Linked DNA regions of Homo sapiens. The protein of the gene in region 1 purifies or fractionates together with the protein of each later gene. This does not show direct contact. Each region holds a gene or a part of one and is shown in the gene's direction. Other genes may lie near its edges.

Evidence for each region.
Region 2: the proteins of HABP4 (region 1) and PUM3 purify together in Homo sapiens (affinity purification with mass spectrometry, with the first as the bait; one large-scale study listed by BioGRID). This does not show direct contact.
Region 3: the proteins of HABP4 (region 1) and CCDC137 purify together in Homo sapiens (affinity purification with mass spectrometry, with the first as the bait; one large-scale study listed by BioGRID). This does not show direct contact.
Region 4: the proteins of HABP4 (region 1) and DIDO1 purify together in Homo sapiens (affinity purification with mass spectrometry, with the first as the bait; one large-scale study listed by BioGRID). This does not show direct contact.
Region 5: the proteins of HABP4 (region 1) and GTPBP1 purify together in Homo sapiens (affinity purification with mass spectrometry, with the first as the bait; one large-scale study listed by BioGRID). This does not show direct contact.
Region 6: the proteins of HABP4 (region 1) and ELOA purify together in Homo sapiens (affinity purification with mass spectrometry, with the first as the bait; one large-scale study listed by BioGRID). This does not show direct contact.
Region 7: the proteins of HABP4 (region 1) and TMA16 purify together in Homo sapiens (affinity purification with mass spectrometry, with the first as the bait; one large-scale study listed by BioGRID). This does not show direct contact.

Annotation. Positions count from the first base shown.
Region 1 is NC_000009.12:96,456,669-96,460,168, forward strand, and holds part of HABP4 (intracellular hyaluronan-binding protein 4), read left to right. Parts: intron 1-1,710; coding exon 1,711-1,873; intron 1,874-3,500. UniProt on the Homo sapiens protein: Ribosome-binding protein that promotes ribosome hibernation, a process during which ribosomes are stabilized in an inactive state and preserved from proteasomal degradation.
Region 2 is NC_000009.12:2,827,096-2,830,595, reverse strand, and holds part of PUM3 (pumilio homolog 3), read left to right. Parts: intron 1-647; coding exon 648-822; intron 823-1,817; coding exon 1,818-1,921; intron 1,922-3,444; coding exon 3,445-3,500. UniProt on the Homo sapiens protein: Inhibits the poly(ADP-ribosyl)ation activity of PARP1 and the degradation of PARP1 by CASP3 following genotoxic stress. Binds to double-stranded RNA or DNA without sequence specificity. Involved in development of the eye and of primordial germ cells.
Region 3 is NC_000017.11:81,669,737-81,672,067, forward strand, and holds part of CCDC137 (coiled-coil domain-containing protein 137), read left to right. Parts: intron 1-488; coding exon 489-717; intron 718-2,007; coding exon 2,008-2,090; intron 2,091-2,331.
Region 4 is NC_000020.11:62,916,506-62,920,005, reverse strand, and holds part of DIDO1 (death-inducer obliterator 1), read left to right. Parts: intron 1-3,500. UniProt on the Homo sapiens protein: Putative transcription factor, weakly pro-apoptotic when overexpressed. Tumor suppressor. Required for early embryonic stem cell development.
Region 5 is NC_000022.11:38,704,463-38,708,743, forward strand, and holds the start of GTPBP1 (GTP-binding protein 1), read left to right. Parts: upstream 1-1,481; 5' UTR 1,482-1,493; coding exon 1,494-1,685; intron 1,686-4,281. UniProt on the Homo sapiens protein: Promotes degradation of target mRNA species. Plays a role in the regulation of circadian mRNA stability. Binds GTP and has GTPase activity.
Region 6 is NC_000001.11:23,749,971-23,753,470, forward strand, and holds part of ELOA (elongin-A), read left to right. Parts: intron 1-874; coding exon 875-2,060; intron 2,061-2,436; coding exon 2,437-2,548; intron 2,549-3,500. UniProt on the Homo sapiens protein: SIII, also known as elongin, is a general transcription elongation factor that increases the RNA polymerase II transcription elongation past template-encoded arresting sites.
Region 7 is NC_000004.12:163,511,690-163,515,189, forward strand, and holds part of TMA16 (translation machinery-associated protein 16), read left to right. Parts: intron 1-1,132; coding exon 1,133-1,170; intron 1,171-2,384; coding exon 2,385-2,469; intron 2,470-3,500. UniProt on the Homo sapiens protein: Involved in the biogenesis of the 60S ribosomal subunit in the nucleus.

The DNA of each region.
Region 1 (3,500 bases):
AGAATGGCGTGAACCCGGGAGGCGGTGCTTGCAGTGAGCCGAGATGGCGCCGCTGTACTCCAGCCTGGGCAACAGAGCAAGACTCCATCTCAAAAAAAAAAAAAAAAAAAAAATATATATATATATATATATATATATATATATATATATATATCCATTAACTTGAATAAATGTCATAGCTATACAACTAATGTGGAGAGTAATTTGTACCAAGAAAAATTGAAGCCACTATAGTAAATATTGCACATAGTGAGAGGAGATCTTTTAAATGTATATAAAAAAAGATAGACTTTTTTTGAAGATTAAAGATGTGACAAAGTTCTCCACAATGTATTTACCAAGTATTAGATGGCTTCAAACATAGACTTTGCTTAAGATGTTTAAAGCATTAAAACTAAAGGGGAGTAAAGCAAGGTGACAGGACAGAGGAAAAGACCAGAGTCTCGGCCGGGCACGGTGGCTCACGCCTGTAATCCTGGCACTTTGGGAGGCTGAGGAGACCAGCCTGACCAGGTTAGAGAAACGTCGTCTCTACTGAAAATACAACATTAGCCAGGCGTGGTGGCGCAGGCCTGTGATCCCAGCTAATCTCTACCCGGGAGGCGGAGGTTGCAGTGAGCCGAGATCGGGCCATTGCACTCCAGCCTGGGCAACAAGAGTGAAACTCAGTCTCAAAAAAAAAACACAAGAACAAAACCAGAGTCTGTGGTCCCAGCACAGTGTCCAAGTGCTGGACTGAGTGGACAAAAAGAGATGCCCTCAAGTACTGGCTGACTCTTGGGCAAGTTGCCAAATAGCAGTGTTTGGTTCATATTCAGGAAGTTATAACTGCAAGTCTATATATCTCATAGAATAGCAGGAAAATCTGTTTTCAAAGTAAAAATATAAGCACTACAAACTTTAAAAACAAAAACCTTGGCCAGGCGCTGAGGCTCATGCCTGTAATCCCAGTGCTTCAGGAGGGTGAGGTGGGTGAATTGCTTGAAGCTGGGAGTTCGAGACCAGCCTGGCCAACATGGTGAAACCCTGTCTCTATTAAAAATACAAAAATTAGCTGGGCATGGTGGCACATGCCTGTAATTCCAGCATCTTGGGAGGCTGAGGCATGAGAATTGCTTGAGCCTGGGAGGCGGAGATTGCAGTGAGCCAAGATTAAACAGTGCACTGCACTTCGGGCTGGGTGACAGAGCAAGACTCTGTCTCAAAATAAGTAATTAAGTAAATAAATTAAAAAAATACAAAATAAAAACAAAAACCTTAGTAGCCAGTGATAAGCCATAGTTGCTATGTAATGTGCAGTTGGGATTCTAAAAGTACAGTCTGAAATATAGGGTATTCTTTCATTTTCTAGGTACGGCTTACACACTGTGTTTTTGTAAGACTGCTTTTGTGAACTGTAGCTTATTTAGTAAAATGTACCCATGGCTGTCACAGTTATTGGGAGATGCCTGTAATTATAGGTGAGCTTAGTTGGTCATATACTTTCTAGGATATAGGGAAAGCATGATTTAATAGTAACATCCTATTAAAAAGTAGACTGTGGGCAGTTGTAGTATCAGCAACTTTTTTCTTTGAAGTTTTCTAAACTTCCTGAATTCTCCTATGACGTTGATTTCTAGAAAAATGAAATTTACAAGTACCTGTAAAGTTTAATAGTGTGCTGTTGCAGATGTTGTGTTCCAGCTCTCTGCTTTGATTTTCTGTTGGTAGGCCAGAAGCGGACTCCTAGAAGAGGGGAGCAGCAAGGATGGAATGACAGCCGTGGGCCGGAGGGGATGCTCGAAAGAGCTGAGCGGAGATCCTACAGGGAATACCGACCCTATGAGACAGAGAGGCAGGCAGACTTCACAGCTGAGAAGTTTCCAGATGAAAAGTATGTGCTGCAGTCCTCAGCAGGGCGGGTGGGGAACCAGAAAGGTTTTGAGAAAATGCTACTTTCTTTTTCTTTTCTTTCTTTCTTTTTTTTTTTTTTTTGAGACAGTTTCGCTCTTGTCGCCCAGGCTGGAGTGCAATGGTGCGATCTCGGCTCACTGCAACCTCCGCTCCCGGGTTCAAGCAATTCTCCTGCCTCAGCCTCCCAAGTAGCTGGGATTACAGGCATGTGCCACCACGCCCGGCTAATTTTGTATTTTTAGTAGAGACGGGGTTTCTCCATGTTGGTCAGGCTAGTCTTGAACTCCCAACCTCAGGTGATCCACCTGCCTTGGCCTGCCAAAAGTGCTGGGATTACAGGAGTGAGCCACCATGCCCGGCCCAGAAAATACAACTTTCTACTGGCTACTGCTTTTTGTGGTACCAGTCCTAGGAATGTTTTACTAATTTATGTGCAATTCATGTTACCTTAGATGATGGGAAGGATCTTCCTTTTTCCTCATAGATGCCTTTACGTCTTGGTTCAGGAAATGATTGTACAATTAAAAATGAATTGCTTGTTGGTAACTGAAGAGCACTCTTAAAAAGAAATTACACAGGAGTGTGTTGAACTGGTTTTCTTTTGAAGTTCTAGATTAGAGATATAATTTTGGACTAGGGATATAATTATGGTTTTTGATTTCACATTACCAATTTAGACTGCTCAATGGATTGAAATAAATTCCTAGCTCCACGGTCAGGTCAGTAGGCTGCCATGATGAAATTTGAAGAAGAGTCTGTTATGATGTGTAATACCAATTTCTGGAGGGCATGGCTGCTCTCCGAAGTACTCTAACATGGACAGAAGTCGTGGGCTGGTGGAGTGTTGCGTCGCTGCTTAGTGATGTGGCAGCATGGTGGCCACCGCACTCCACCTCAACACGGGGAGGGGTTGTGTCTTATGTTTGGCACTTGCTGCTTAAAGTCTTTGTTTAATCATTAAACCTGTTTATGTTAAACAGAAACAAGTAGTGAATCACATTTCAAGGAAAATAAAGTTAAACAAGCTAAGGAAGACTAGAATAGTGAACAGTTATATGTCAAGGGAGCCATTTTTCCAAACTCTTTCTGCTTCTTGACTGCTAATTCCATTCCATTTAGGATTCTGGCTACAAGTTTTAACCAAAAAATGTGGCTTTGTAAAACTATACTATAGAGCCTATTAAAAACAAAACAAAACAAAAGTCCAGCAGAGAGTAACTTAGCCTGGGTGGGCTGAGCAGGTGATGACTCATGCAGAACTGTTCACCTGGAAGTTACACATTCAAGACATTGAGATAGTCTATCTGCAACCATGTTGGAGGGAGAAACTTACAGAAAGCCTTAATTTTGCACCTTTTTTGGTGATTACTTCAAATCTGCTGTGTAGTAAGCACAGTCTCCTTGTTTCTGCAAAGCTTCTTGTAGCAGAGCTGCTTATTTTTGGAAGCATTTGGGTATTTATTTTCCCCTCACTTTAGGGATTCTGTGGAAATGAGGAAATTATAGTTCACTTGCACAAACCCATGTTTCCCCCCTTTTTTAGTAGCAAGACTGTGTAGTCTTTAAAAAGGATAAAATAGATCTTTATATGTGACATGAAAAAATAG
Region 2 (3,500 bases), about 94 Mb from region 1:
AATAATTTTACATGATGGATGATTTGTGAATGTTTATCTTGAACCTCTGGAAGAAGAGAAATAGAATAATTAACTTATAATTAGCCACCAGTATTAAGAGGGTGGAGACTGGGGAGGGACAGGTGAGTAAACTGATAGAGGGTCAGTGGGTTAGAAAATGTCAACATGGGAGAATTTCCTAAATTAAGTGGAATTAGTACTTGTCTTGACCAATCTTTTTGAGTGTATTAATGTGCTAGAATATGATAATCAACAACAAAAAGTGTAATATATGCAGTTGACAAAATTTTCAAAAATGTATTCCTAGCTGTAGTTTCCAGCTGTTTAATTCTTTTAGGATATAGTTAAAATACTTGTGATTAAGTCCCATCTTCAAAAGGAATCTTAGAATATGATTTTCTATTTCCTTGAATCTTTTATCTTTTTTCCTGCCCTACTGTTTTTTTCGAGCAGAACAGTTTAATAGGAAATGACATTTATTGAGCATTTACTATGTGCTGGCCACAGCTTCTCAATGCATGCTAGCTCATTTACTCCTCAGAGTGACACAGATTGATGAGTTGGTCTTGGGAGAAGTAAGTTGTGTTTTATTGTCACCCAGCTTTCTCCTTCTATCATTTATTTTTCCATGATTGTGTTGCGTTTAGAAGTAAACCACAGATTGCAGAGATAATCAGAAGTTTTAAAGGCCACGTGAGGAAGATGCTGCGGCATGCGGAAGCATCAGCCATCGTGGAGTACGCATACAATGACAAAGCCATTTTGGAGCAGAGGAACATGCTGACGGAAGAGCTCTATGGGAACACATTTCAGCTTTACAAGGTGACATCTCCAGAAGTCTTTTTCTAGTATTTTTACTTTTCGATATGCTCTTCCTTAACTTCCGGTGCCCTATATATCTTTTGAATGTATTTTTACTGTGGCTGGTTCTTTAAGAGACCATCTTATGCCCTTGATTTTCCCTCATGCTTTATTTTGTTTCTGGTATAGTGAGCAAGTTTCTCTTTCTCCAGAGCATTGGCTTTAAATCCCCTTCAATTCAAACTTTGTTCCTCTCCTGAGTGCTCTGTGTGTAGCACTTCAATACTTCTATTTTTACAGTCATACTGAAGGACAAGACTCCCAATAGTTAGCAAAGTTGTGTGACCACCCCCAACCAGCTCTGGCTGAAGTGTATTGGGCTCTCTGTTGCTAGCTTCTCCTGTGTTTTTTCATGTGCATGCATTGCCCTTCTTCAGATTGTGTCTGGAGATGAAGGGGAACAGAGAGACCTAACCTTGGATAGAGTACAGGGATTGAATCTGAGAATAGTTAGCAGTGGGACTAGCTGGTTAAAGAATCTATTTCAAACCTTGGAACATAAATGCACACATGTGTCTGAAGGGATATGGATTGATTCCCGGGTTGCCTCCATTAGCCAGGTTCAATTCTTGGGTTGAATTTGTTGCTGTACTAATTTTGTTAACAGTTCGTTATATTTAATAGGAATAGCCAACTAATTATAAAACATATGGTGGCAAGAATTTGTGAAGTGACTACTTGATCTCATAATTGGGCAAGAGCTAGGTGCTTGGCAAGTAACTGTTAGCTGGTTAACTTGGTTGGCCTGGCTCTTTAAATGCACTGATAGATACACAGACTGAGAATCAGCTAATCAGGTTACTCCACAAGGATATACAGCAGAGCTTTCATTATGTAAATATGGGAAATCTTAAATTTGTTAAAACTTATTTTAAAATGACTAATTACTTTTCTTTTTCCTGAAGTGAAAAAATTGATTAAATTTAGAGGGGTTTGATTGTTTTGTTTTGTTGCAGTCAGCAGATCACCGAACTCTGGACAAAGTGTTAGAGGTACAGCCAGAAAAATTAGAACTTATTATGGATGAAATGAAACAGATTCTAACTCCAATGGCCCAAAAGTAAGAAAGTTGTTTTTGTTTTGTTCTTAAGAAATGACATTCAAAGGAGGAAGGTTTTCCATAACTGTTGCCCAGAAGAGGTAGCTATTTCCTGCTTACAAGTATTAATCTATTCTAAATAAGAGTGCAAAAGTGTTGGTTTGAAACCATTCTTGGTGCAAAAGGAGATTTCTTTTTCTGATATTGTACCCTATAAAATGATAACTAACATGCATTCGTGATTTATGAGCTTTTTTAAGCAATGAAACATTCTTTCCCCAAATAAAATGTTACATGGAAGCCATGTATACTAAACAGTTTCACAAATATAATCTGTTACTCAAATTTGGTTGTAGGCAAGGTACAGTGGCTCACGCCTATAATTCTAGCACTTTGGGGAACCAAGCTGGGAGAATCACTTGAGGCCAGGAGTTCAAGACCATCTGGGGCAATAGCAAGACCCCATCTCTACGAAAAAATAAGAAAATTAGCCAGGCTTTATGGCATGTGTGTATAGTCTTGGCTACTTGGGAGGCTGAGAGGCAGGAGGCTCACTGGAGCCCAGGAGGTCATGGCTGCAGTGAGCCATGGTTGTGCCACTGCATTCCAGCCTAGGCAACAGAGTGAGACCTTGCTTTAAAAAAATAAAAAAAAATTAAAAAATGGATTGTAAGACTTGGAAGCCTGTGCATGTGCCCTTCATGGCATCTGTCCAGTAGTGGAGTGGCTGAGCATAGCTTTTGGGACCCGACTGCCTGGGTACGACTCCTGGTTCCCCACTCCCCCAACTATTACTAACTGCAATCTTTGGCAACTTAACCTCCCTGTGCCTCAATTACCATATTTGTAAAATTGGGATAATAATAGTACAGACTTCATAGGAATTTTGTGAAGATTAAATGGGTTGGTTGTTCCAAAACACTCAGAACAGTGCTTTGCCCATAAAGGCAGTGTTAGTTTTTGCTGTCTACTTGGGTATCACCTGTGAACTTTAGGTCTTTTATGCCTGACCATCGGCCTCCACTGTACACCTGGATCCACCAAGTGTCACACTAGGGGGTTTGGATTAAGTAGGTGTTGTTGCAATTGCTGACAATGTTTGGTTCATTCAAGTTTTAATTCTGCTAAAATTATTTTGTGAAACAGATGGATTGTGAAGGGTGTTAACAGAAATAAAACAACTATTAAAAAAATACATCCACATGTGGATTTCTAATCATTATGTCCAGTGCTGGGGGAAAAAATGTAGATGTCCTTATTTAATAGAGCAGAGCATATTTCAAATGTTGATTTTATGTTTGCCGATTAAATACTAGAAGTTTATACTCTGGTCTTGGTTGTAGATGGCACTAAATCAATTTTACCATCTAAATTTTTGTTTAAGTTTTAGTATTTCTGAAAAATACAGTCTATTTTATGACAAATTGTATTCAGTAAAACCATTTCACTTGTTTAGATTACTTTAGGACTTTGAGATTACCTGTCTTTGTATGACTGTAGTGCCAGATCTGTTGTGTCTTTTTGCTTTTTTTTTCTGTTTTCAGGGAAGCTGTGATTAAGCACTCATTGGTGCATAAAGTATTCTTGGACTTTTTTACCT
Region 3 (2,331 bases), on another chromosome or scaffold:
GTTTTTAGTAGAGACAGGGTTTCACCGTGTTAGCCAGGATGGTCTGAATCTCCTGACCTTGTGATCTGCCCATCTTGGCCTCCCAAAGTGCTGGGATTACAGGCATGAGCCACCGCGCCCGGCAGGTCTGCCCACGTTTCTCTGTGTAGCTCCACTGGGCTTCTTTCGGCAGCTGTGCAATGGAGTCTGTGGGTGATCAGAGGAGAATTCATTCAACCAGCCACCTAGGGGTGGACATTAGGTTGTTTCTGCTTTCCTTTTTCAGCTGTGCTGCAGTGGACATCTGTGACAGGTGCCATTGGGCTGGGGGGTCACGTCCCCGGGGATGCCGGGCCGGGCATTCTACATCCTCTTCAGCTGCTGTCGTTGGGGTGCTTCCAGCCAGCCTGGTCTTCCCTTCCTGTGGCTTTGGGAGGGGAAATGAGCATGGGTCACCTGCCTGCCACTGTCTGCCTCCTGCCTCCTCTGAGGCCTCCCTTTGTCCTCAGCCCAGGTGACCTTCAGAAAGACATTGGAGAAGGAAGCAAAGGGAGAGGAGCCCGACATCGCAGTCCCCAAGTTCAAACAGAGGAAGGGGGAGTCTGACGGGGCCTATATCCACCGCATGCAGCAAGAGGCCCAGCATGTGCTGTTCCTCAGCAAGAACCAGGCCATCCGGCAGCCAGAGGTGCAGGCAGCTCCCAAGGAGAAGTCTGAGCAGAAAAAAGCAAAAAAAGCGTGAGTGGAGGCGGGAGGGGGAGGGGTCTGCCCTGGGAGCCGGAGGGAAGACATTGGGTTCCCATGACGGCCCTCTGCAGGTACCCTGTTTCATAGCCATGGGGCAGCCTGGATTCAGGGAGACCAAGCCAGAGCCCTGGGAGTTGGCGAGTCGGAGCATCCAGCTGGGAGCCAGTGAGGGTGTGGCCTCCAGGAGGCTGCGGAACCTGGGAACTCTGCGGAGACCTCGCTTGGTCCTTGCTTTCACAGGAAAAGCACCAGAAAGCCCTAGCCCTGTGGGAATCAGCCCTGAGGGGGTCGGTCTGAGGGTGACGTGCCCAGGGGTTCTGTTTCCATTAGAACAGAATGTCTCTCGTCCAAGAGACTACACCTTCCTAATTCTCTAAAAGCTTTGGCCGAGTACAGTGGCTCACGCCTGTAATCCCAGCACTTTGGGAGGCTGAGGCAGGTGGATCACGAGGTCAGGAGATCGAGACCATCCTAGCCAACACGGTGAAACCTTGTCTCTAATAAAATACAAAAAAAAAAATTAGCCGGGCGTGGTGGTGCATGCCTGTAATTCCAGATACTTGGGAGCCTGAGGCAGTGGAATCGCTTGAATCCGGGAGGCAGAGGTTGCAGTGAGCTGAGATCGTGCCGCTGCACTCCAGCCTGGTGACAGAGCGAGACTCCATCTCAAAAAAAAGAAAAAAAAAAAAAAGCTTTGAAGGTTTGAGAGGTTGCTTTCAGCTCTGTAGATTCCCTGTTTCTGGATTGTTGTATTACTTATAGTTACCTTAGCCAGTGAAAGTTCATCACAGAGAACGTGGCCCAGATACAGCCTGGCGCCACGGTGATCTCCAGAGCTGTCGCTGAAGGTGAAGCTTCCAGATTCACATTGAGGGAGACGTGATATACAATGCTTGTTAGGCCCTTTAGACACAGCAGCACCGGATGGGCTGGATGAGTCTCTGTTGGGTGGTCTTTGGCAGCCTTCCCAGCCTTCGTGCACAAGGTGCCAGTAGCCCTTGCCCACGTGTCTGCACACATTGTCAGATGTTCCCTGGCAGGTAGCTGTCCCCAGCTGAGAACCACTGGGGGACCTGTGAGGGGCCTGTTGGGGTCAGAGCCTTCTTTGGTGGGCAGCTGTGGGTTTTGGGGTGGTAAGGGGAGCGGGGACTTGGAGGCAGCCACCTGTTCTTGGGTCCCTGCTCTGCCACAGGGGATCCCTTGTGGGTGGGGCGGCCTCTGCCTCCTCCCTGGGTGGAAAGAGAATTTAGGAATCTGAGTGACATGTGCTTTCTTCCCCAGGTTCCAGAAGCGGCGACTAGATAAAGTCCGACGGAAAAAGGAGGAAAAGGCGGCAGACAGGCTGGAGCAGGAGTTGCTCCGAGGTAGCTCTTCCCAAAGCGATGGTGTCAGCAGTGGTCCGGGTGGGGCCTGGGCGCAGGCCTTCTGTTCCCCACCAGCCCTGGCTGCACTGGGCACCTGTGGTTTCCCCTGGGGTCCACAGCCATTAGACCACTGGATGAGTTGGTGTTCTGTCCCAGCCCTATGGGAGGGAGGTGGGCGGGTGGTGGCTCTGGGTGTCAGGGGTGCAGTGGCTGTGGGCAGCAGTCCTCAGTTGTATTCTGC
Region 4 (3,500 bases), on another chromosome or scaffold:
GACAAGAGGAGTCCATCAAAGGTAGTGGTTTAGGAGACTTTATGTCCAGCCATTAAATAGAGAACAATAAACCTCACTTCTCCTTCACCTCGATAAATGATTTTATGTGACTGTTTCTGGTTCCTGGCATTCATTTGGAGAGTTGAAATTTCCCACCTGAGTTGCCCACCAAGGTCACCAGCCTGTGTTTTGCACTAGGAAGTAGATAGAGGGAAATGGCAGGATTGTTGCAAGCTCACATGGGGAGCTTGGCGGCCCGGCTGTAGCCGGGGGCTGGCCAAAGCATTAGTCCTCAGCAGGTTTTTCAGTAACAAGTTTTGCTTTTTGTCTCCGCGTATCTATAAAAACACAAATACCCAAGAAATGTAAAACAACAATAGGTTGTTTCTGGATTTTTCTCTACATTTTCTTTGTGAGAAACATACTGTGTTGTGGCACCCTTGCTGCTTTTTTTTTTTCTTCTTTGAGAGGGAGTTTTGCTCTTGTTGCCCAGGCTGGAGTACAGTGGCACGATCTCAGCTCACTGCAACCTCCGCTTCCCGGGTTTAAGTGATTCTCCTGCCTCAGCCTCCCAAGTAGCTGGGACTACAGGCACCTGCCACCAAGCCCTGCTAATTTTTGTGTTTTTAGTAGAGATGGGGATTTCACCATGTTGGCCAGGCTGGTCTCAAACTCCTGACCTCAGGTGATCCACCTGCCTCAGCCTCCCGAAGTGCAGGCATGAGCCACCGCACCCGGCCCAGAATAATTTTTGTAATGACGGTATTATTTGGTAAGCAGCAAAACTTTGAATTTGCCGTCTGAAGGATTTAAATGTAATCTATGCAATTGAGTCAGATTCTGCATAGATACTAAAGTAAATGAAAGTTGGGCTTCTTCAGTTCCTTGTGGGCCCAAATCTCTTTCCTGTTTGGTGAGTGCAGCACAGTGTTTCCTGCCGCAAGCTGGTGGAGCTTTGAGTGGGCCATCATGGTACATGAACGGCTGCTGCTGGTGGCTGGAGAACACGTCGCATTTGGGGATGTCATCTGAAGTTTCTAGGCATATTCTCCTAGTGACTGTCGCATTAATGAAAACTGAGCTATCAAGAGTCTTTCATTGGGTAATCTTTCCTTCATTTGTGGTAGTTTAAAGATCTTTTACCTAGTGTCTTCTCAGTTGCTCCTCATCTGCATAATAAACAGATTGATGAGCCAGGAGACCCTTAATAGGCAAAATATAAATAAATGTAAACTTTGGCCTACCCTGTCAGAATTAGCGAAAATAATGAAGTTTAGAATAGTGAGGTTTTATTGTAGCATTATAATTTCTGACTGGCGGGTTAAAATTGTTTTGAATATTGTTTCAGGGGAATGTGAGGTTTGAAGAAACAGAATGTTTGCCACTAGGTGAGGTAAACTATGCATTTTTGTTTTATCTTTTTGCTTAGAAGTCAGAGCTCTTTTCCTGGAGGTGCGATGTTATGAAAATAGAAACTTAATTATGGTTGTATGTCATATTTTAAAGTGTCTTGGAGATTAATTACTCAGAAACTAGTCTCAAGTTTTTGGAACTGAAAATCTTTAGGTGGGAGCTGGGCACTGTGGCTCACGCCAGTGGTGTCCCAGCTACTCAGGTTGAGGCAGAAGGATCGTTTGAACCTATGAGGTAGAGGCTGCAGTGAGCCCTGATCATGCAGCTGTACCACAACCTGGAAGTGGGCACGCTTGAGTTAATGACTTCAAGCAGATTTTAGAGTAGTAAAAGTTGAGCATACAGATTTGCAGTGGTTGCAAACCCATGCATTGTAATAGTTGCAGTTAGGCTTTTTAAAGTAACAGAGCTGACCTTTTGGGAAGATATTTTTATTTGGTTTTTAAGAAATTTCACTTTTGGCTGCTTACTGTTTTGGTGAGTTGGGGAATCTGAGGGAAGATTAACAGGTAGTTACAGAACCCTTGTGGAAGGAAATGTTTAAAGTCTCTTCTGATGTCTGAAGCATAGGTATGTATTACTGCTTTGCACATATCCAGTGTACTCCTAAACTGGTAGAAATGGCATGTTGCCACAGTTCTTTGTGTTTCATGGACTCCTGAGGGGGAAGTCCTTGAAGCCCTTTCTGGGGCTAAGAGGTAAAGATGACTTCTGCATAATAATAGTCTAATAGTACAGGCCTTTTCTGGTGAGTTTGACATTTGCATCGGTGGCACAGGGCAGATTGGAGCCCTCTTCAGCACCGTGCATGGGCACCGAATGTTTAGAATATGCCAATTTTCCCAAATAATGTCCCTGATGATGCAGTAAATATTAATTTTTTTCGGAACCCGCAAACATACATCTTTTTTACTTTCGCTGTGATTAAATGTCAAGTTATATATAAAGCTTCTGCTGCATCCCCACGTGGTACTGTCCACGCACAGCCCTAGGGGATTGAGCTGGGAGCCGAGTGGTCTCGGAAACGCTGTCTGTCCCTGACAGAACAACAGACGGAGGACAGTTTTCAGACTCAGCATGTGGCAGGCGTTTTGTCCAAAACGAGTGATGTCTCAAAGAAAAAACGAACAGTATTTGTTGCTAAGGATAAAATTTGAGCTTTGGGGTGAAAATTGGAATTTTAGAAAACTTGTATCTGCCATTGTAAACCTGATGGCTTTCTAGTAATTAAAGTCTTCTTGGAGATTGGACCCGACATTATCGGCCAGGTGAGGTGACTCACACTTGTAATCCCAGCACTTTGGAAGGCGGAGGTGGGTAGATCACTTGATCCCAGGAGTTTGAGACCAGCTTGGGCAACATAGTAAGACCCTGTCTCTACAAAAAAAAATGCAAAAATTACCTGGGCATGGTGGCATGCACCTGTAGTCCCAGCTACTGGGGAGGGTGAGGTGGGAAGACCGCTTTGAGCCTGGCGGTGGTGTGGGTGGGGGAGGTGCTGAGGCTGCAGTGATCCTTGATTGCACCACTGCACTCCATCCTGGGCAACAGGAAAAAAAATGTTTGTTTTATGCTATCCGATGAGATGTGTGGACATTGAGAATCTGTCTGTTACTTGAACCCGTGTCATCCAGGTGAACAGCATGCACATGGGTCCAGAGTGCAAGGACGTGTTCAGAGTGAACACAGCAGTCAGTTTTCATGAAAGAAAGGGAGAAGTTCCTTGACAAAGGCTGCAAATTCTGTTTCAGCTAACTTTTATGAAACTGCTCCTTGGCGAGAGTTGGTGTAGTATCAGTGAACATCCAGTTATGTGAAGATGGTTACAATACTCCATTCTAAAGACCTATCTGTGTGAGGCAAGATTTTGATGACATGTTTTAGCTGAAACACTCTATGGGAACAGATTGAGGGCAGAAGTAGACATGAACATGGAGCTGTCTTCGGTTATGCCAGAAATTTGCAAAAATGTACAACAGGGCCACTCTTCCTGTTCATTTTTGTTTGTTTTAGAAATAACTTTCATTTAAAGATACTATTAATGTATTAATAGGTTTATTTTTAATACATACTTAGAATTTTGAAAA
Region 5 (4,281 bases), on another chromosome or scaffold:
GCCCAGCTAATTTTTGGTAGAGACAGCGTTTCACCATGTTGGCCAGGCTGGTCTCAAACTACTAACCTCAGGTGATCTACCCGTCTCAGCCTCCCAAAGTGCTGGGATTACAAGTGTGAGCCATTGCTCCCGGCCCATATAGGATGGAGGTGAGCAATTTGGCAAGGAAGAAATTAAAAAGCACATAAGAACAGTATCAAGACCATTGGAATCAGATGACTTCCTGTCCAAGATTCCCAGCTGTGTTTGTGCAAATAAGACTTGATAGTAGTGGAAAACAGGGACAAGAAGAGACTGTCTCTTTCTTCTCAGGTAGATCCCCAAAACTGAAAGCCATTTTCAATCCTGCCACTTGCTCACTAAAGATTTAGGGTTTAGGTCCAAACCCTAAGTCTTGGATTCCTTATCTTCTCAAACATGCTCTTGTTTGCTTGATGCCTGGTTCGAGTGGCCAAGGCCGACATTCATAGACGTTGGTTAATCCCTAATTTCGCCAAACAATGACGGCCTAGGCTTTTCCGGCTTTTGAAACAGGAATTCAAGACACTAAAACGTGTGTTGATGGCATTTTGGGTTGGGGCTTTTCACAACTGATGACACTGGAAAAATAATCCATAGGAAACTACCTTATGAGACCCTAGATTTCGGTTTAGCAGTTCACCACAAAAGTGGTGAGGTGTTTTTTGGCTTTTAATTTTAGCTGCTTGCCTCTGTTTTTAGTTCGTGTGATTGCCTCCGCAAAGGCAGTGAATGGAGAATTCTCCCTAAGGTCAGCATTTAATTATTGCCTCACTCTGGCTGCTATAGTATTACAACTCTTGGAACTTACAGCATCGATCCTACTATTAAAGTTGCCTGGAGCATGCCAGCACGTTGGACATCGGCGTTCCAGCAACTGCCTCAGTCACTGAATCGAGTGGGAGGCTCATTTTGCAGTTTACTATCTCCATGAGCAGGTCCAGGCGCGGGACCTGTTCTATGACTCGATTGGGTCCTGCCCTTGTCCGTCATCGGAAGGCTTACAGCGCCTACTGTTTTGCAGTAAGATTTGCAGGCTTAGTACCGCCTCTGGAAACAAGGAGAGTGAAGGGGCGTTGACGAGTAACGTTGTTTGTATTTCTCTCCTCATTGGATGGCTGCTGTGTCAGTCAGACACTTCTCTGCTTCCGTTGGCGGGAAGGCTTCAGGCGGGTAGCGGGGACTCGGTACTGCCCCCTCCCAAGCTGGGAGCAGGGCGCGTGACGTCTCAGACATTTGTTGTTGGGATTTGGGCCTCATTAATTATTCATTAGGTACTTGAAAGCTCTGCAGGGATTGGTGGCTGAGAGGCCTAGTCGACTGTTTCTTAGCTAGAGGTACGTGTCACCCAGTACGCGGCTGGAGTTTTGCATAAATTATTCCGATAAGGAGCGGGGCGGGGCTCTGTGCATAGATTAGTCAAATGAGCCTGGGAGGGAGGGAAGCCGGCTACGAATTAGCCTAAGTTATTAAAGATGGCGACGGAGCGCAGTCGCTCCGCGATGGACTCGCCGGTCCCGGCCTCTATGTTCGCCCCCGAGCCCAGCTCCCCGGGGGCGGCCAGGGCCGCGGCGGCCGCCGCCCGACTCCACGGCGGCTTTGACTCGGACTGCAGCGAGGACGGCGAGGCGCTCAACGGCGAGCCAGAGCTGGACCTCACCAGCAAGGTAGGCCCGGGCGGCGGCGGCGGGCGCTGAGGGGAGCGGGCGGCTGGCCGAGCAGTCTCCCGGGCGACGGCGGGGCCAGCGGCCGCCCTGTCCGCGGGGAGCGCGGAACGGGAAGAAGGGGCCGAGCCCGCCCACCTGCTAGTCTCCGGGACGTGCGGGGGTTCGCGGCGCGAGGGGCCGTCCCCATGGTCCCCGCACCCACCTTGGCTCCCCCGCGTCGCCAACCCAGCCTCCCGCCCTCCCGTCTCCCGCCGAGATCGTAACCCCTCGGCTCTGCCACGTGGAACGGGGGCGCCCGATGCCAGCTGCGCTCCGCGCGTTCCCTGTCCCCGCTCAGTGCCCCTCCCCGTTCTTCGGGTCCCCACTTGAGGGGATTCGGAGACCGAGAGTCTCCTCTCCCTGGACCGCGCGGGACAGCAGAGGGGCGAGGGGGCCCGGGCAGGGGGCCGAGACGCTCATGAAGACAGGTAGTCGGAGGCCAGGGCAGGGTGGCCGCCGCGTCTCTTCCCAGACTCGGGAAAGGAAACAGAAAGTAGTCGCTCAGCTGGGGAGGAGCATGTCCGAGAATGTCTACTTTTCGAGGCCACCCGAAACAAAATGGAAAGATGGTCAGGCTCCTTAGTCTCGCTATCCTGTGAGTGGAAGCTCATCTTGTATGAGTGGAGCAGTGAAGGACGTTTAAAACCGTGTTTTTTGAGCTGTCGAGAAGGTAGGCAGGAATTAAGGCCTCGCCAACGGCTTGACATTGTGAAGAATAGAAAAGTAAATACAAGATGTGACTGGTGTTTTGAAGGTGCTTAACGTTCCTTAGGGAAAGAATGCCAACTTGGGAGTCAGACAGGGCTGGGTTCCCTTTCCTGCCCTACCATCGAAAGGCTCTGTGACGTTGGGAAAGTTTCTTAACCTTTCAGTTCTCCAACCACCTCATCTTAAGAAAGTACAGATGGGTTGTAAAAATTAGAAATATTTAAGAAGACACCTAATAGTGCCTGATGCATACTAGAGACTCAGTAAATGTTTGAAGTGAACGAGATAGTTCCTAATTTCCTGTGCAGATTAAATAGCAGTGGGTGAAAGATAGAACACCAATACCACCACTTACATTTGTAGGATAGTTACGATAGACATTTTATCCAGCTTTGAAAATGTTTGTGACTTTTTATAGTTTATGGCGGCAAATTTGCATGAAACTTGGTCCTAAACTGGGGAGGAACTTTCCCTGCAACCTAAGCAAGTTATTTTCAACTGCTCTTTGCCATTGTAGTCTCAGGTGAGCACTTGGAAGCCAGCTAGCCTGTCAAAGTTGGTCCTGTCTTGTGCCTGTAAGGCCATAATGAGGATGGCCAAACTTAGAGAGAGGGATGGCCAGGACGATGTAAAAGACCCAGGAAACATCCAGGTTACAATTACAAGCTCTGATGAGTCAACTCAGGAAGTTACAAGATTATGGACCTGACTCAAGAGCAAACAAACTGGATGTCAACACATGGTCAAGGTGCTGAAGAAACATGATAGGAAATTGCAGGGCAGAGTTGCAAAGACGGTAGTACCTTCATTTCTTGACCAGCTCATTTAATATTCCTAGAAGTGTTATTTCATCACATAGCTGGGGAAGTCCTCCTTACAATTAAAAAAAATCATATGTATATTAATATCGATGATATCAAAAAGAAAAAGTGATGGTGTGGAGGGAGAGAAGGGTTGGGTTGAATAGATTGATTCCGGAGGAACAGATTAGAAGCGAAAGGTTCATGTCCTTACGATAGAAAATGTGGAGACCTAAGGCTCCGAGAGCTTCCAAAGGGAGAAACACTTAGTGAATAGTGGTGGCTAGTTTCATCCAACAAGGTTTTTCTGGGAATGATTGGGTGAAGAAAACCTTGTAGTTTCACATTTATTGAGCTGTGGACTAGATGCTTTACATGTTATTATATTTGCTCTTTACAGTGGCCTTAGGATGCAGGTAGTATTAGCTCCGTTTTATAGATTGAAAAACTGAAACTCAGAGTGGTTAAATTCTTTGTCCAAGGTCACACAGGAGTGGTTAGAGAATGGGGTCTGATTGCCAAATGGCTTACCCAAGTAAATGGTTGACACTTCAATGTTATTGGCAGACATTTGCAAAATGACGGTGCTAATACTCCTCGTAGTGGTAATGGTGATGGTGCTTTGTTGATGAAGATGAGTCTTGCAGGCAGTTTTCATTCCCAAATATTCAATATAGCTAAGACAAGATAGAACAGAATTCTTTTGTTATCCTGGAAGCCACTGGCCTGTGGGTGGAGGGCATGGAGGTATATGAGGTATATGTCTTGTGGGCTTCCAGATGCCAACTGCAGGTAGAAGACTTTGGCATGTAGATGGAAAGCACTGCGCTTTCTATCCACAGTGCCATATTCTCAGTCACTTGGGTCCTGCCCTTCCTGTTAAGCAGCAGGAGGCAGGCTGCTTGTGCCCTCTTTACCATGGGTTATGGCTCAGACATACACATTGTAGTATATTATTTGGCTCATATAAGGCCTGAGGCTCAAAGGCTACTTCAGGAGAAGCAGAGAGGGCATGAAGGGGCTGTGCAGCCTTTTTAGATGAGGGTGCT
Region 6 (3,500 bases), on another chromosome or scaffold:
TTGTTCAATTTCATGGTTAAATTTACAGATAGAAAAGGTTTTCTTTATTATTTCTCTTTTGCCTTCTGAAATTGTTTTGCCTCAATTATAAAAAATAATCCATGATCATTGTAGAATATTAGAAAATATTAAAAATAGAAATCAAAATTTCCTATTTCTATCACGCAAAGACAAACGTTATGAACATTTTGGTACGTTTCTTTTTTTTTTTTTTTTTTTTTTTGAGACAGAGTCTCGCTCTGTTGCCCAGGCTGGAGTGCAGTGGCGTGATCTCGGCTCACTGCAAGCTCCGCCTCCCAGGTTCACGCCATTCTCCTGCCTCAGCCTCCTGAGTAGCTGGGACCACAGGCACCCGCCACCACGCCCGGCTAATTTTTTGTATTTTTAGTAGAGACAGGGTTTCGCCGTATTAGCCAGGATAGGATGGTTTTGATCTCCTGACCTCGTGATCTGCCCGCCTCGGCCTCCCAAAGTGCTGGGATTACAGGCGTGAGCCACCGCGGCTGGCCTGGTATGTTTCTTTCTAACTGCTCCTTAAATGGCATTTTTTTAAGTTGTGAACTAGATAAATAGTGAGCAGCCCCCATTTTATATAACAAATTAAACATGTCCCCATGTTTTAATAAATCTCCACATTTTCATGTATATGAGATATTTGATCTTTGCATCTTGTGGTTAAACTCACCATTTCTCATTTGGGTTTTCCCAGTTTTAAGATTTGAGTATCTTTAAGCATAACCTACTTATCTTCTTCTTAAGACCTTGTTGTTTCTAACTCTGCATCTTCACTTCTTTGGTGAGTTCAGATTCTGTGACTTTGTCCCTCAAGAAGCAAGATTTAGACCTACTTTGTCTGCTTTTTCTTTTATTTTAGAAATGCTGAGCCTGATGAACAGGACTTTGAGAAGAGCAATTCCCGAAAGCGCCCTCGGGATGCCCTGCAGAAGGAGGAGGAGATGGAGGGGGACTACCAAGAAACCTGGAAAGCCACGGGGAGCCGATCCTATAGCCCTGACCACAGGCAGAAGAAACATAGGAAACTCTCGGAGCTCGAGAGACCTCACAAAGTGTCTCACGGTCATGAGAGGAGAGATGAGAGAAAGAGGTGTCACAGAATGTCACCAACTTACTCTTCAGACCCTGAGTCTTCTGATTATGGCCATGTTCAATCCCCTCCATCTTGTACCAGTCCTCATCAGATGTACGTCGACCACTACAGATCCCTGGAGGAGGACCAGGAGCCCATTGTTTCACACCAGAAGCCTGGGAAAGGCCACAGCAATGCCTTTCAGGACAGACTCGGGGCCAGCCAAGAACGACACCTGGGTGAACCCCATGGGAAAGGGGTTGTGAGTCAAAACAAGGAGCACAAATCTTCCCACAAGGACAAACGCCCCGTGGATGCCAAGAGTGATGAGAAGGCCTCTGTGGTGAGCAGAGAGAAATCACACAAGGCCCTCTCCAAAGAGGAGAACCGAAGGCCACCCTCAGGGGACAATGCAAGGGAGAAACCGCCCTCTAGTGGCGTAAAGAAAGAGAAGGACAGAGAGGGCAGCAGCCTGAAGAAGAAGTGTTTGCCTCCCTCAGAGGCCGCTTCAGACAACCACCTGAAAAAGCCAAAGCACAGAGACCCAGAGAAAGCCAAATTGGACAAAAGCAAGCAAGGTCTGGACAGCTTTGACACAGGAAAAGGAGCAGGAGACCTGTTGCCCAAGGTAAAAGAGAAGGGTTCTAACAACCTAAAGACTCCAGAAGGGAAAGTCAAAACTAATTTGGATAGAAAGTCACTGGGCTCCCTCCCTAAAGTTGAGGAGACAGATATGGAGGATGAATTCGAGCAGCCAACCATGTCTTTTGAATCCTACCTCAGCTATGACCAGCCCCGGAAGAAAAAGAAAAAGATTGTGAAAACTTCAGCCACGGCACTTGGAGATAAAGGACTTAAAAAAAATGACTCTAAAAGCACTGGTAAAAACTTGGACTCAGTTCAGAAATTACCCAAGGTGAACAAAACCAAGTCAGAGAAGCCGGCTGGAGCTGATTTAGCCAAGCTGAGAAAGGTAACCCCTTCAGCCCCTTGGTGGCTTCCCACCCAGAGCACCTGGCCCTGCAGAGCTCAGAGGATTGCCCTGCCACTGTTTTCCTTAGCTTGCTTTTGGGGGGCATGTTGAATTTCAGTGTGCAGTAATTTCCTCTGGGCTTCACTGGTTGTCAGGGTATATGGTACCGCAAATAAGAATTTTCTGCATTATTCTCTTGTGATGGGCTCATCTGTATTTATTTCCTGACTGAGGTGGTGTCAGACATGACTGTGGCCCCCTCCAACCTGGATCTTCCTGTGCAAGATGTCCAGTTAATGCTCCCGGGAATAGACTGTAGGAAAGAGAGCTGTGCTTCTACTCACTGACTCTCCACCCATGGGTCTGTCCCCTGCAGGTGCCTGATGTGTTGCCAGTGTTGCCAGACCTCCCGTTACCCGCGATACAGGCCAATTACCGTCCACTGCCTTCCCTCGAGCTGATATCCTCCTTCCAGCCAAAGCGAAAAGGTAATTTTCTATATCTTCTTTTTCTTAATGGGAAAAAGATTTAAAAATTCATTCAAGGCAGGGTACAGTGGCTCACACCTATAATTCCAGCACTTTGGGAGGCCGAGGTAAGAGGATTGCTTGCGGCCAAGGGTTCTAAACCAACCAGGCGTGGTGGCTCACTCCTGTAATCCCAGCACTTTGGGAGGCCGAGGCGGGCAGATCACCTTAGGTAAGAAGTTCGAGATTAGCCTGGCCAACATGGTGAAACCCTGTCTCTACTAAAAATACAAAAATTAGCCAGGCATGGTGGTGCGTGCCTGTAATCCCAGCTACTCCGGAGGCTGAGGCAGGAGAATTGCTTGAACCTGGGAGGTGGAGGTTGCAGTGGGCCGAGATTACGCCATTGCACTCAAGCCTGGGTGACAAGAGGGAAACTCTATTTCAAAAAAAAGGAGTTCTAAACCACCCTGGTCAACACAGCAAGATGCTGTCTCTACAAGAGAAAAAAAGTAGCCAGGCATGGTGGCACATCCCAGGTACTCGGTAGGCTGAGGTGGGAGTATCACTTGAGCCCAGGAGTTCAAGGCTGCAGTGAGCTCTGATTGCATCACTGCACTCTAGCTTGGGTGACAGAGCAAGACTGTTTCAAAAACAAACAAAAAAACTATCACCATAACATCAGATTTTTGATGCATTTCCTAAGTGCATAGACTCTGAAGTTTGATGGCTTGGGTTTGAATCCCAACTCTGGTTTCTGCAAGTTATATGACCTTGAGAAATATCTTAATTTCTTTGGACCTTAGTTGTATATATTGTGTAAATGGGAGTTATAATGGTATCTGCCCCATAGGGCTCAGTTTAATGAATTCAGAAGTGATGCCTTTTTGCTCTGGGTTTATCACATAGTAATTGTTCAGTAAATTGCTGCTGCTGTTATTAGCAGCCCTTTATCCTATGTGTTACATAGGAT
Region 7 (3,500 bases), on another chromosome or scaffold:
TGGTATATAACAGTAGTCCTAACTACATGGGAGGCTGAGGCAGGATGGTTGCTTGAGCCCAGGAGTTTGAGGCTGTGGTGAGCAATGACAGCACTACTGCAGTCCTGCTCGAGCTACACAGTGAGGCCCTGTCTCTAATGATAATAATGATAATAATAACAAAAGATTTCATTTTATTTCTCCAGTTTTCTAGTTGTGTAAAATGGGAGGATAAATCTGGTTTGCTTACTTCTTTGTGGATAAAAGCCATGTATACTTCCTGCTTTATACAAAGCCTTCTCCTATGGCTAAGATTTTTCTTTTACCATTCCCGTAGTCCCTATCTTTTTTTTTTTTTAATCCTGAATAACTTCTCTGTATGTTCAGGTCTCAGCTTAAAATTTACTTCTCTGGAAAACCTTCCCAAATCCTAAAACATATGGTAGGTGCTTTTTAAATATGCTTTTATAGCTCTGTATGCTTCTCCATGTTTTTATTGCCCTTAGATTTTAAGGTTTTTCAGGACAGGGACAGTGAATTTTTTTTGTTCATGGCTGTATCCTTTGGGGCTATCAGAAACTAAAGTCTGGCAAAGACTTGGTATCCAGAGGTCTCCTGAATGAGTAAGTGTTTAGAATATCAGTAATAGGAGGCATGTGTTACCTATACACTTTCTGAGCATAGATGAAATTTTTGTTTGTTATAATTCTTTTCAAATTCATTGAAAGTAACCATTCTGTTTTGTTCTTATTGAAATTTAAAAGATGACAGTAGTGCATTTTGATCTTGGTGGCAGTACTCAGTCTTCCAGAAGGTTTGCATTACTCTTGTGCTCAAGTATTCTGCATATTACAGAACCCATCTGAATGTTCACAATTCAGAAAAGCTTTCAGTTGTGTTTTCAAAACTGGTTTGTTCTATAGGCTTCCTTTAGACATTGAGGTGCTTAAAGGAAGTTTCTGATAAAATTCTAGTGATTCAAAAGAGAAGCATAGTATTTAATGTTTCTGTTAACAAAATTATTCTCAAATTTGTAAAAGAATGACCTTTTAATTAGAGTTCTTTAGGCAGTTTTTCTTTTCGTTGTTATTGTCAGAGTTTTAAAACTTGCTTTGGAAATTTTCTAACACATATATTTACCTTTCCTTCAAAGATTGAAGAATGAAAAGGCCTTGCGTCTCAACCTTGTTGGTAAGTGGGTTTACTTATTTGAAACTCTGGCTAGAGTATAGGGCATTTCTGCCCTATACTTGTTTTTCTTTTTACTCTTTTAGTGAAATACTGTTTTTATCAAAGTGAATTTGATCAGACTTGATCTAAACAAAGCAAATCAATCATTAAACTTTTGGAATAAACAGTGTTAATGATTTCTAGCTCAGTTTTCCAGAAACTGTTAGTTTATATTTATCTACCTACCTACCTGTCTACACATAACATTCATATCCATCTGTCCATCTATCTGATGTTTAACTCTACCTCCCTAACCATTAGAATTATGAAGGATTATGGCCTAGGTAGAAACCACAATTCATATTTATTTAATGATGTGGACATACACATCTTCAGTTTGTATCTCAGTGTCATGTCACTGTTTTTTTGGTCAGATTTATTGCTAATAATTTTTTACTCACAAATCTGAGATTTAAATACTGACTGTTAGGCTCTTTTATTAAAATTAAAGGTATTTGAACTCCCATCAATGCTTCATCAGGTAATAGAATAGTATTTTTAAATGGGATCTCATTGTACAGGGCCGGGTGATTTTTTTTGATCTGTAATCTTGAGAAATCTAACTGAAAGTGACCCTGACGGTCAGGTTTACTCACAAGGGTGAATTTTGTTGGCTCTTTGGTAATATATATCAATTACTCTACACAGTACCTGGCAGCTCTTATATGCTTAATGTATTTGCTAACTTTGGGGCCCTGGACAGGTCATTTAACATCTCTCATCTACAAATGGGGGTAATAATAGTACTAATTCTCATGGGATTATAAAGCTATTTACATAGTGCCTACAGCTTATTAAATACTCAGCAAATATCATTCTCATCATTAATGGAGTTTTCATTTTATTATTTTTGACAAGCTGTCCTTTGCTTTTAAATACTTAGAAGTTCAAGCTCGACTAAATAATCATTTTCCTTTTTTGCATCCATATTGGATAAGAAATATATACAGAAGCGCATCCCTCCCACTCCTCTTTCTTCTCTAAATTAAAATCTGACAGTTTAATTTGTGACAGACTGGTTTAATTAGCTTTGAGCCCACACAAGGCTTTATGTTTAACATTGACATAAATTTTGGTTCTGTTTTAAACACGTTAATGTTGAAAATGATAATGAATATTTACTTGCTTAAATGATGACTTGTGGGGTAAACTGTCTTGGTACTTGTTGTTTATAGGTGAAAAACTGCAATGGTTTCAAAATCATCTTGATCCCCAAAAAAAGAGATATTCAAAGAAAGATGCTTGTGAACTAATTGAAAGGTAAACACTGGGCATATTATGAGCAAAGGGTCAGAAAAGGGAATTGTCCAGCCTGGTTCTTTAAGACACAGAGCTCTGTTACGGATTTGCAGAAGAGCAAATGGGCTTTGTTATCAGGAAGACTATTTCCTGGCTTAGTCACTATAGGAGGTTTGTAACCTATTTGGGTCTCAGAGTGGTAGTTAGGCCACTTTCTTGGGATCAGGATGGGCTTCCTGGAGAAGTGTCATCTAAACTGGCAGCTGAAAGGTGGGGGTTAGCAGATCGAGGCAAGGTAGTTTGAAAAACCCCTAGCAAGAAAGAAGAATATTTAAAAATGCCCAGAAGTGAGAATGAAGATAACGTATTTAGTGATCTGCCAGACATTTAATATGACTAAAATAAGTTGAAGGAGGGAACTGTGGCAGGTACAATAAGTGATAGCTAGCTCATGAAAGACCTCAGATGTCAGTCTAAAAGTTGGGACCTTATCCAAGGACATTAGGAACCACAGGAGGCTTTTACAGCAAGCAACTGAAATGATCATACTTAACATTAGAAGGGACACATTGAGAATGAAGAAAACAGACTGAGAGGTTCATGACTCTGGTCAGGAAACCGTTGAAAGGTTGCTGTAACAATCCAGGCCAGAAATGATGGTGGCCTCAGCTTGGCTCATAGCCTGATAAAGAAGTGAAAGATTCCAAAGAAATTAAGAAGGTAGAAGTCTCAGTGTTCAGTGAAAACTTAGGTGTGGAATAAAAGGGATAGAGAGCAGTCAAGGAAGCCATCAGATTCCTCGTCTGGACAACTGTTTCCTGAGATAGGGAACCCAGGAGATGGAGGGGGTTTGGTGGGGGGTAGGTGGGGACAGGGTGATGACAAGTTCAGTTTTGATGTGCTAACGGTGAAGCCACTAGGGGACATCCAGATTGAGATGGTGGTTGAATGTGAGGGTCTGCAGTTTGATAGAAGGCTGCGATTTGGTCACTGAAGTTAAAGAAATGGTCGAGTTATCCAGGGAATGGGTAAAAGAGGTTTGAGGACCTGAG